Linked DNA regions of Homo sapiens. The protein of the gene in region 3 purifies or fractionates together with the protein of the main gene of each other region. This does not show direct contact. Each region holds a gene or a part of one and is shown on either strand. Other genes may lie near its edges.

Evidence for each region.
Region 1: the proteins of RMDN1 (region 3) and PDS5B fractionate together in Homo sapiens (co-fractionation; one large-scale study listed by BioGRID). This does not show direct contact.
Region 2: the proteins of RMDN1 (region 3) and NTMT1 fractionate together in Homo sapiens (co-fractionation; one large-scale study listed by BioGRID). This does not show direct contact.

What each region holds. Positions count from the first base shown.
Region 1 is NC_000013.11:32,771,442-32,775,096, forward strand, and holds part of PDS5B (sister chromatid cohesion protein PDS5 homolog B), read left to right. Parts: intron 1-1,747; coding exon 1,748-1,883; intron 1,884-3,575; coding exon 3,576-3,611; 3' UTR 3,612-3,655. UniProt on the Homo sapiens protein: Regulator of sister chromatid cohesion in mitosis which may stabilize cohesin complex association with chromatin. May couple sister chromatid cohesion during mitosis to DNA replication.
Region 2 is NC_000009.12:129,629,163-129,632,817, forward strand, and holds part of NTMT1 (N-terminal Xaa-Pro-Lys N-methyltransferase 1), read left to right. Parts: intron 1-3,487; 5' UTR 3,488-3,541; coding exon 3,542-3,655. UniProt on the Homo sapiens protein: Distributive alpha-N-methyltransferase that methylates the N-terminus of target proteins containing the N-terminal motif [Ala/Gly/Pro/Ser]-Pro-Lys when the initiator Met is cleaved.
Region 3 is NC_000008.11:86,474,693-86,477,766, forward strand, and holds part of RMDN1 (regulator of microtubule dynamics protein 1), read right to left. Parts: intron 2,633-3,074; coding exon 2,602-2,632; intron 905-2,601; coding exon of another isoform or gene 843-904; exon of another isoform or gene 702-842; intron 262-701; coding exon 128-261; intron 1-127.

The DNA.
Region 1 (3,655 bases), on a different chromosome or scaffold from region 3:
GAGTGGAAATAGAGTAGCATGTCTTCTATTAGTCAGAAATTTAACACTTTTTCTGAGAGTAATCCCACCCATACATAATTACATCATGGCTCGACTTTTCAGAGTTGCCAATGTACTGTCATTAAATACTCAATTATCTTAGAGATTTTCCTATTCCTGTGTATTCCACAGGAAGAGGAAAAGTTGCCTGGGTGTCTAGCCAGTACTTCATGCCATCTTCCATGTAATTTTTCTATCAGGTTAAAAGTAAAGGTAAGTACATTTTTGTGGCAGCTTTATAAATGTGTTTGGATTCAACCAAATCACTATTTCTAAACAAAGGATTCTTAAGGAATCCTTTATTTAATAAAATACACATGAATGATGTAACAAGGAAATAACAAACCTCATAATTTTAGTTTGTTTATATTTGGACATCATAAAATTCAGGGTTTAAATGATTATTGTGCTCTCCTAAAATTACACAAGTCCTATGAATGTTCTAAACCAAACAAGTATTTCTTAAAAAAAAAAAAAAATTGATATGGAAGAAGATTCTGTAGTCTGTCTTGGAAGCCTATCTTCCTTTCACTGGGAAGCTCTTTCTAGAGCTAGTATACTAACATATGTTAGGATTTGTTTCTTTTTCTTGTTCTGACCTCAGTGAAATTGAAAAAGATTGTCATTATGTTTCATGTTATTTCTATAGTTTCATTAATCTCGAAAAACCAAACCAAGTAAAAAAATTGTTTGGTTCGAGCGTGAGTTAAAAAAATACATATTTTGGATTGCTTATAGAAGTGATGTTATGTTTCTAATTTTAAAAAATAAAGATTTATCAAGAGGGATCCATTTGATTAGATGGTTCTATTACATATTTTTTGATGCCTCCTGTGTTTCAGAGAGTACTAGGTGCTAGGGACACAAAACAGACGTGGTACTTGTTTTCATGGGCTCGTGGTTCTTGTTTTCCACCATCTAATGGAGTGAGGAAGTTTTTTCTTTAAAAGTAACAATGAGTTGATATCTTGAGAATAGTAGGGGCTAGACAGGCAGAGAACAGGTGGCATGAACACTATATTTGAAGTTTCTGAAGTGAAAAATAACTTGGCAAAATCAGAAAGCTAAAGGAAGGCAAGGGTTTGTTGGATTGTAGTTGTGGGGAGTTGGGGAGCAGAAAGAGATGAGAGTGGACAGGTAGGCAAGGACCATCTACTGTTCCTTGTATACTTTGTTAAGGAGGTTTACAAAATTATTCTCAGCTCAGTAGGGAGCAGTAACATCATCTGTTCTTGTACTTTTAAAAGATAACTTTGTAAAGAGAAGAGGCAAGAGATGGGAATGGTTTGAATTAGGTGGTAGCAATGGAGATGTGGAGAGAAGTGAATGGATTTGAGATCTCCATAAGAATCTATAAGGCCAGACAAAGACAGGTACACTATATTCAAAGCAGAATTCCTTTCTGCTTTGAGCAGCTCAGTAGACATAGATGCCTTTTACTGTGTTAGGAAAGATGAAAGGAAGAGCAGACTTTAGGTTATGGTATGTTCTCAGTCACATTTTTTTGTTGTTACTTGGTAGATAATATGTAACATTCTATGATTAAATGCTGGTTTAGGATTCAGAATATTAAAGAAATGTTCTTGTCTCATAAAGTAACTGAGGGTAAAGATGATATGACGATGAAATACGTGAAACATTTCTTCTAACGAGGTAATCTACTGAAAGATTGGAACGTTCATTGTGTTTTACATGTGTTTTACTCTAGCCGTGTAGGACGCTCCAAACAAGCAGCTACTAAGGAAAATGATTCAAGTGAAGAAGTAGATGTGTTTCAGGGTAGCTCTCCTGTCGATGATATTCCACAGGAAGAAACAGAGGAGGAGGAAGTTTCTACAGTAAATGTATGTGTTCAAAGTTTCTGTGAGTGGTGTGGGATATAAAAAGAGTTAGTAAATGTTTGGTTAGATCATTTAGTACTTGTTTAGTATTTATATGTTTTACTTCATTAGTTCATAGCATCATTTTATCTACCAGGTTGGATAATGGAGAACATCTTTTATGGAAACCCGAAACTAAGCAAATAGGTGTAGCTTAATGAGAATGTAAATGTCAAGTCTGAACTGAATGTACAGCATTCTAATATTGACACTTTAAGCATGTAAGTTGTACCTTGATTTTAGGGCACTGATACCCATTAAGTATACTGTTGTTTATATTTTACAACTCTCCGTTTGGTATTTCTATTTGGGTTTCATAATAGAAATTAGAAGTTAGTTACACAGAATAAAATCAGCCTTTGGAATTGAAGTTTGAGCTGAATGAGAATTCATAAAATTGGTAATACATACTTATTTTGCAAAAGTAGGTATGTGTTACTTCCTGACTTTTTTGTTTTTGAGACAGAGTCTCACTCTGTCACCCAGGCTGGAGTATAGTGGCGCACGATCTGGGCTCAGTGCAACCTCTGCCTCCCAGATTCAAGCAATTCTCCTGCCTCAGCTTCCCAAGTAGCTGAGATTACAGGCCAATGCCACTGTGCCCGACTAGTTTTTGTATTTTTAGTGCAGACAGGGTTTTACCATGTTGGTCAGGCTGGTCTCGAACTCTTGACCTCAAGTGATCTGCCTGCTTTGGCCTCCAAAGTGGTGGGATTACAGGCATCAGCCACTGCACCCGGCCCTTCTTGACTTTTAAAGTAATAAATAAATAACTTTACCAGTTAATACAACTCAGATATTTCTCTTAGGAAAAAACATAATACATTTAAGTAGAAGCTCTTCTCCTATCTTTGTTTGAGAAACCCAAGCTCTATAATCAAGTCTCAGAATTGGTCTCTGCTGTTCTGTCCTGTTTAATGGAATCAGAACTCCTATCTGTACCAGGATTCATATTTGTGAATAAGCGAGTTAAGTACACAGGAAAATATGCATAATTGTGACCTCAAATTAGTTTGGCTTGTTTCTTAAAGGGTTTTGGGGAGGACATCAAAGTAAGTCTGAAGAGTCAGTAACGATTGATGTCTTCATCAGAGAAAAACTACATGTAAATTAAAACCCTCTTTTATATTCCTATTGTTAATATTGACATTTTTTGAACTAAAGTTTTATGCTTTCATTAGTGCTTGTCAGCAAATGATAATATGTTTGAATTTTAGGTTATTTTACTGTATTGATAATTGTTAAGATCCAAACTCAGTAACTGCTTTCCCAGAAAGATAATGTAAGTTCATAAATGTGAAATGTTTTCATTTACCACAGGAAACATAAGTAGAAAGATGATTAATCTGTTTGAGTTATTTTTCTTGCTGTAGACATTGACTTCTGTTCATTTCTCTTTAAAATTATTAGATAGAAAAGTAAAATAATTTTTTTCTTTCACTGTTCTGGGGAAGTCTGTGAGCCTGTAAGGGATCAAATGTTATAGAGGTCTAAATATGTGATGCCAGGGCAGAAAGTAAGGATAAAAAGTTTCAGGGAAAGGAAAGCAAAGAAAATCAGGAACAAATGAGAATAAAGATTAGTTAAAAATGATTACTGCATATCTTATGCACATATACCCATTTTAATTAAGCATCTGGTGACTTTCCTTTTAAGGTACGGCGGCGAAGTGCTAAAAGGGAACGGCGATGAACAAATGTAATTAATAACTTTCTCTGTGAAAGCTTTGGAAAAAT
Region 2 (3,655 bases), on a different chromosome or scaffold from region 3:
CCGTCCTCTCTTGAGTGACTGATGGAGGGCTGTGACATGGTTGCTCCGGTACCTGCTGGCAGAGGGGCAGGCAGCCCACCTAACCTGGTCCTTACGCCATCAGACCATAGCAGCCACCAAACCCAGCTACATGGTGACATTCAGATTGGTGGCCCTTTTTCCTGTCAGCTACCCGGGCACATCTAGCAGTCTTGAGGATTGGCAGGTCTGGTGGGAAGAAGAATTCATTCTTCTTCTTCTTTTTTTGACACAATGTCTCACTCTGTTGCCCAGGCTGGAATGCAGAGGCAGGATCATGGCTCACTGCAGCCTTGACCTCCCAGGCTCAAGTGATCCTCCCACCTCAGTCTCCCTAGTAGCTACTAGAATGTGTGTATTTTTGACAGAGATGGGGTTTCTGAGCCGTGGGCTTCTTTCTCCTTCCGGCAGTGTTGTTCCCAGTGCTGGGACACCAGTGTGGGAGCTTTGTGGTCAGCTTGCGGGGAGGGTGTTATGTGCAATATTTAGAACTAAGGTCCTCCCCAGCCTGTTACCCCAAAGGGCTCCCTGATTGGTGAAGTGACTGCTGCCTTTCTTCATTGTGGCTGAAACCCTTGTGCGTGAACAGTAAAGTGAGGGGTCAGTCTGCGAGCGGATTCAAGAATCTGAAGAGGGAAGCCAGGTGCAGTGGCGTGCGCCTGTAATCTCAGCTACTTGGGAGGCTGAGCAGGGAGGATGGCTTGAGCCCAGGAGTTTGGGGCCAGCCTGGGCCACATAGTAAGACCCCATCTCAAAAAAACAAGAATCTGAAGAGAAGTTTAAGCAGGCTTCTCTCTAGGCACAGCCAAAGGATTCTGCTAAGGGTGAGAAGACCCAATCACGGATCTAAGAAGAACCCCGTTGCATCTGTTAGAAGTATTCTTGAGCTGGCTGGGCGGGGTGGGCCTACTGCTTCTGGAAAGTTCCTTCTCTTTCAGGACAGGTTCAGAATATAGTAGTGCAGAATATAGTTCTGGGGCCAGTAACAAATTTGACCAATGAAAAATCTTGGCTGGGTGCAGTGGTTTCTGCCTGTAATCCCAACACCTTGGGAGGCTGAGGCAGGTGGATTGCTTGCAGCCAGGTGTTTGAGACCAGCCTGGGCAACGTGGCAAAACTCCATATCTACAGAAAATACAAAAGTTAGCCAGGTGTGGCGGTATGTGCCTGCAGTCCCAGCTACCCTGGAGGCTGAGATGGGAGGATCACCTGAGCTGTACTCAAGTCTGGCGACAGTGAGACCCTTTCTAAAAAAAAAGAAGAAAAAATTCTCCAGCTTGTCTTGTGTTTAGTTTCCCTTCTCTTTCCTCATAGTTGCTTCCCAAAGGCCTCGTGCTCCTTCTCAGGGCATTTTCCCGTTTCCCTCTGACCACTTCTCTTGAAGCCCCTAGAGTGTTCCTGGGTCTTAAGCTTTGAGTTGTGTTTGAGGACTGTACCCGAGTTCCATATGTGGACTCTTCCGTGTTGACCCTGTAGCTCCAGGAGTCAGGCAGACGGTCTTGGACCTACGATTTGTCAACTTTGGCGACAGGCATTTGCTAGAAGCCCCCTGCTCTCCTCGTGTGGAGGCAGCACGTGCGAGGCGGTGAGCTGCAGCTCCCAGTCAGCTGCGCGTTTTCCACCGAGGGTATTTTCCCTTTACCATGGGTTTATCAGGATGTAGCAGCTGCTGCTGCTGGGATTCCTACCACCCACTGTTGCTGTGTGTCCTCAGCACGGCCACTGCCATTCTCACTCTGCCTCCTTTAGGTTAGGCCTTGGCAGTGTGGGAAACACATCAGCCGAGAGTTGGTGCCCAGCATGCACTCGAGGCCACCCTCATCCAGGCCCCGTCTGCCTTTCCGAGCTCACCTTCCACAGTCTTCCCCCGCTCCACTCTCCGCCCTCTGATGGCCCATGCTGTCCCACGGCTGCTCCCTCTGTCTGCCCCACCCCCTCCAGCACTCCCTGTGCTTGGCTGCCCAGCTCGGGCTGCCTCCTCCAGGCGGCTGCCCCTATCTGCTGTTGGGAGGAGATTCCTCTGCCCTTTGAGTGTCCTCGACACTTTGTGGGTCCATGAGAATCCTTATTTTTCTGCTGTGTATTTTCTTTCCCTTTGTTCTTTGTCCTCCTGGACTAGAGCTCTCTGAGGTCTTGGCAAGCCTCACAGCAACTAGAACAGCCCCTAAGCGTGGTGTGCCTTGGTGACAGCACTGTGCCTTGGGAAGCTTATGGCAGAATGGCCACCCGTGGAGCACGGAGCCGCCCAACTGTCATCGCTGTCCTGAAGGGTGAGGTGGGCCTGGGCTCTGCTGCCAGGACCCAGCTGAGGCTTTCTAGTTCTCTCTCCTTCTACCGTGGCAACCGTCTCCTCATCCCCCTGCCATCTCCACCGCCGCCAGCAGTCTTCAGAAGCATCGGTCTTCCCGGGCCACTCTCTGTTGGGCCTCAGGGTGGTTGACTCATTGCTCTGTAGGATGCAGTCGAAACTGCTAGAGTTGACTGTGAGACCAGGAACTGGCAGCCGCGAGGGCTGTCTGTCCTTCCCTCCAGGAGCAGTGCCGTCGCCCTCCACCTACTGCGCTTATTCTTGCCCATCCATCGGTTTCAGCTTACGCGTCCCCTCCTCAGGGATGCCTTCCCTGGTCCCCGCACCCGACTCCACTTCCTCCCTCCGTGCTCTGCTGGCACTGGCGCTTCTCCTCTGCAGCCCTCCCTGCAGGTGTGGTTGTGTCTGTAGAATTGTTTTCTGCCTGGCTGGCTGCCTGGTTCACAGCCCGGTGCCTGGCACAGAGTCCCCACTCCTTGTTAACGGAGGACTGGACCCCACCGTGAGTTGTTGCTGTGCTCTGAGCCAGAGGAAGGGAGGCGTGGAAGCTTCCCTGGCCCTCCAGGGTCTGCTGGTGCTCTCGGCTTTGCGGTCGTTTCTCTTTATTGATCAGGGTTTTCTGTGCCCTGAAGCCACTGAGTCAGGTGTCATATAGAGCATATCAAGAACTTGAAGCCAGGCCAGGCACATGGGCTCACACCCGTAATCCCAGCACTTTGGGAGGCCAAGGTGGGAGAATCTCTTGAGGTCAGGACTTCAAGACCAACCTTTGTAACATAGTGAGACCCCATCTCTACAAAAAATAATTAGCCAGGCATGGTGGCACACAACTGTAGTCCTAGCTGCTCCGGAGGGTGAGGTGGGAGGGTCTCTTGAGCTCGGGAGTTGGAGGCTGCATTGAGCTATGATCACACCACTGCACTCCAGAAAAAATAAAAATGTAAAAGAACTTGAAGCCAGGACTTGGGGCGGGTGCTCTGAGTGCAAAAGACAGAAGATGCTGTTATCCAAGGGGTAGAAGCAGATTTGGGGACCCTGGACTTCTCTCTGCACTCAGCAGGATGTGTGACTTGTGAAGCCTGGTGTGAGACTGGCCCTCTGCCCTGGGGGCCTTTCTGCCAGGTCCCTGGCCCGCTGACTCACGCCCCCTTCCTTACCCAGGAGAGTCGCGGTTGCTGATCGTGGTGCTTGAGTAGAGCCGTGGTTGGTGACAGCATGACGAGCGAGGTGATAGAAGACGAGAAGCAATTCTATTCCAAGGCCAAGACCTACTGGAAACAAATCCCACCCACGGTGGACGGCATGCTTGGGGGGTATGGCCACATCTCC
Region 3 (3,074 bases):
TGAAATGAACACACTTGTTTTCAACAATATTATGCATTTAGAAAATTATGCTTTTAAAGAAGTTCTTAATTCACCATTTAATAGTGCCTCAAAACCTTTCTGCCTTACTTTATGGGAGATGTTTTACCTGTTTATCCTCCTCTGTGTGTGCTGGATAGTCCTTGGCTTTCATTAGCCAGAAAGCAGCAAGCTTTTTGTTGTGTAGTTTCAAGTATGTCTTTCCTAAAAGAAGTAAGTTTTTGCTGTAGAAGTTTGGATCCACTGCACATAAGAAAGAAAAAATGATCTCAGAGGAAACAGTGTTGCTTTTATTTTTAAAGGTTTGTTTCTGAGGTCTAAATTTCAATAAATTTGTGTGGTCAATAAGTGATTAGACTAATGGGAATTCTCTTTTGTTCAACTGTTTATATCTCAAACAAATATTTGTAAAATAATAATTACCAATGAATAAACATCTACAAATGTGCTAGGCACTGCATTATACACATTTCTCATTTTCACAACTTTGTAAGTAGGTATCTCCATTTTATAGATGAGAAGCTGAAGCTCCCGATAGAATGTATGCTATTTGAGGACAGCAATACTCTTTTTAATCTCTTTAGTTCCCTATGGTACCCCACGTGCCTACAACAGTGTGTGAAACATAACATACATTCAGTGTACATCGGCTGAATAAGTGAATGAAATGATGATGACATATATATATTTGATCAACATTTACTGGATGTCAGCTATACTTAAACATAGAGGATGAAACAAAACCTCTGTTTTTTTCAACTTTATAATGAAGAGAGAAACATGAACACAACTAAATGTAATATAAAAATGAAAGGAATGCTTTACTAGATATACAAACTTTGAACTGCTACAAGAAACCAAAAAAAAAAGTGGAGAACATTCTTGGCTGAAAGAAAAGCATAAACAGAAAGCCTATGAATGAAAACATGGAATTATCTCACCAACTTAATTCTTCACAAAGTGTCCCCCTAACAATCTGAGATCCTCTGTATTCAAAGCATACTTTTTCCTGTATACAATTAATGATTAACTCCATTTGCTCCTTAACCAAAATTGTTTTACTTCTTTTATTTGAGCAGATTTGTGTGATGCCATGTTGATATACTTAAGTTGTCCTGGGGTTAAATATATTCGTATATTCAATCATCCGATCATTCATCTATTTACTCAGTCATTCAACAGATTTGCCAAGCATTGTGCCAAGTAATGAGTGTGCAATTGTGAGCCAGAAAAGACAAAGTCCACATCTTCTCAGAATGTACAGTCTTACACATGTAAATGTTCATAGTATTGAGTGATAAGTATCACTGGAAAAATAAAAGATACTAAGGGCATCAGAGGAGCCTCTGAACTGAATATAGGCCAGAAAGAAATAAGGTAAGGTCACTCAAGAATGACTGAAGTTACCAGGGATTATTTTAGCTCCATGAGGGTAGGACCATGTTTTTCTCAACACCCCCAACCCTTAAGTCTCTAAGGTCCTATATTTTTACTTTGTAATTAACTTTTAAATCTGTTAAAAAAAGTCATCCCTAGATTCATATTCATGATATGTGAAACAGTATGATCAAGAGAGGGTATCAGTGAAGGTAATAATGAATAAATCAGAATTGATGAATTACAGAGATAAAACATTCAGATAAAATTCTGTAGAAGATAACTGTTATCATGAAATGAACAAGTCCATTATGTGTGGGATCTCAAATTTAATAAACATGGTATGTCTTCTCCTGATTAAGTTTTATAGAATATATTTCAATGGTTTTTATGGTCTATTTGGTATCATATGCTTATGTCTCTTATCTCCCCCACTTGGTGTATGAATATTAAAAAGGATAAATTTAGGATGGGCTGGTGGCAGTTTCATAGGACTAGTCATTTTTTCAAAACAAACATAACCCGAAACTCTTTTTCACAATATCTGCAATAGAACTAGCCTGGCTGAATAGCAGAATTCCCATTTAAATGCCTCTAATGAGATGCATAATCTTTTTTTGTTTTTTTCAGACAAGTCTCACTCTGTGGCCCAGGCTGTAGTGCAGTGGTGCAATCACAGCTCATTGTAGCCTGGAACTCCTGGGCTCAAGTGACCTTCCTGCCTCAGCCTCCTGAGTAGCTGGGACTACAGGTGTGTGCTACCACACCTGGCTAATTTTTATTTTTATTTTTTGGTAGAGATGAGGTCTCGCTATGTTGCCCAGGCTGGTCTCAAACTCCTGGGTTCAAGTGATCCTTCTGCCTTGGCCTTCCAAAGTGCTGGGATTACAAGTGTTAGCCACCACATCTGGCCAATATGTGCAGTCTTGAATAAGACAATTACCATGTCAGAGACTGCTCTCACAAAGGAAGCAGAATTACATCAAATGATAGACATTCCAGAACTGCAGCTCTAAGTTCAATAGCAGCCTATTTCTCATTCAGGTGATCTTTACTGAATAAAGACTTTAAAAATTGTTTTACAGTATCTAGCACAAAAATAAGTATAACAGAATAAACAACTGCTTTAGACATTGCTATTATAGTATATATTCAGCATTCATACAATTTTAACTATATTAATATGTGTAATCAAAAATACCTTACCTTGTTCTGCCCTGTGAAAGTAGCCTAAGGCCTGTCAAAAACACAAAGAGCCCAAACATAATAAAAAAGATTAAAGAAGACAATATTAAAAAAGCATTGTCTCAAAGATCTACTGCTATATTATATTTAAGTCAGGAAGTAAATCATCTTAAAATAATGGTCACTTCTTCAACAGTGAGAGTTAACACCCAAAGTGAACGTAACACTTCAATCATCAAGATTACAATATATGGACTACTTCTGGTAATAACTTGGTTGCTGTTTAGAACTTGTACCAAACTAACATCATGTGCAGAAAGGAAAGAACATTATCACGTGTAACTCAGCTATTTTGACAGTTCTCTTAAATCATAACTAGTGATTTTTAGTAAAAACAAAATATAATCAAAAGCTGAATTTATTCGTTGTACTAGTGAATTTTTAAGAGTCCATTATTATTGAAATTCCTACATACAATGTTAAGTCTGAAACTC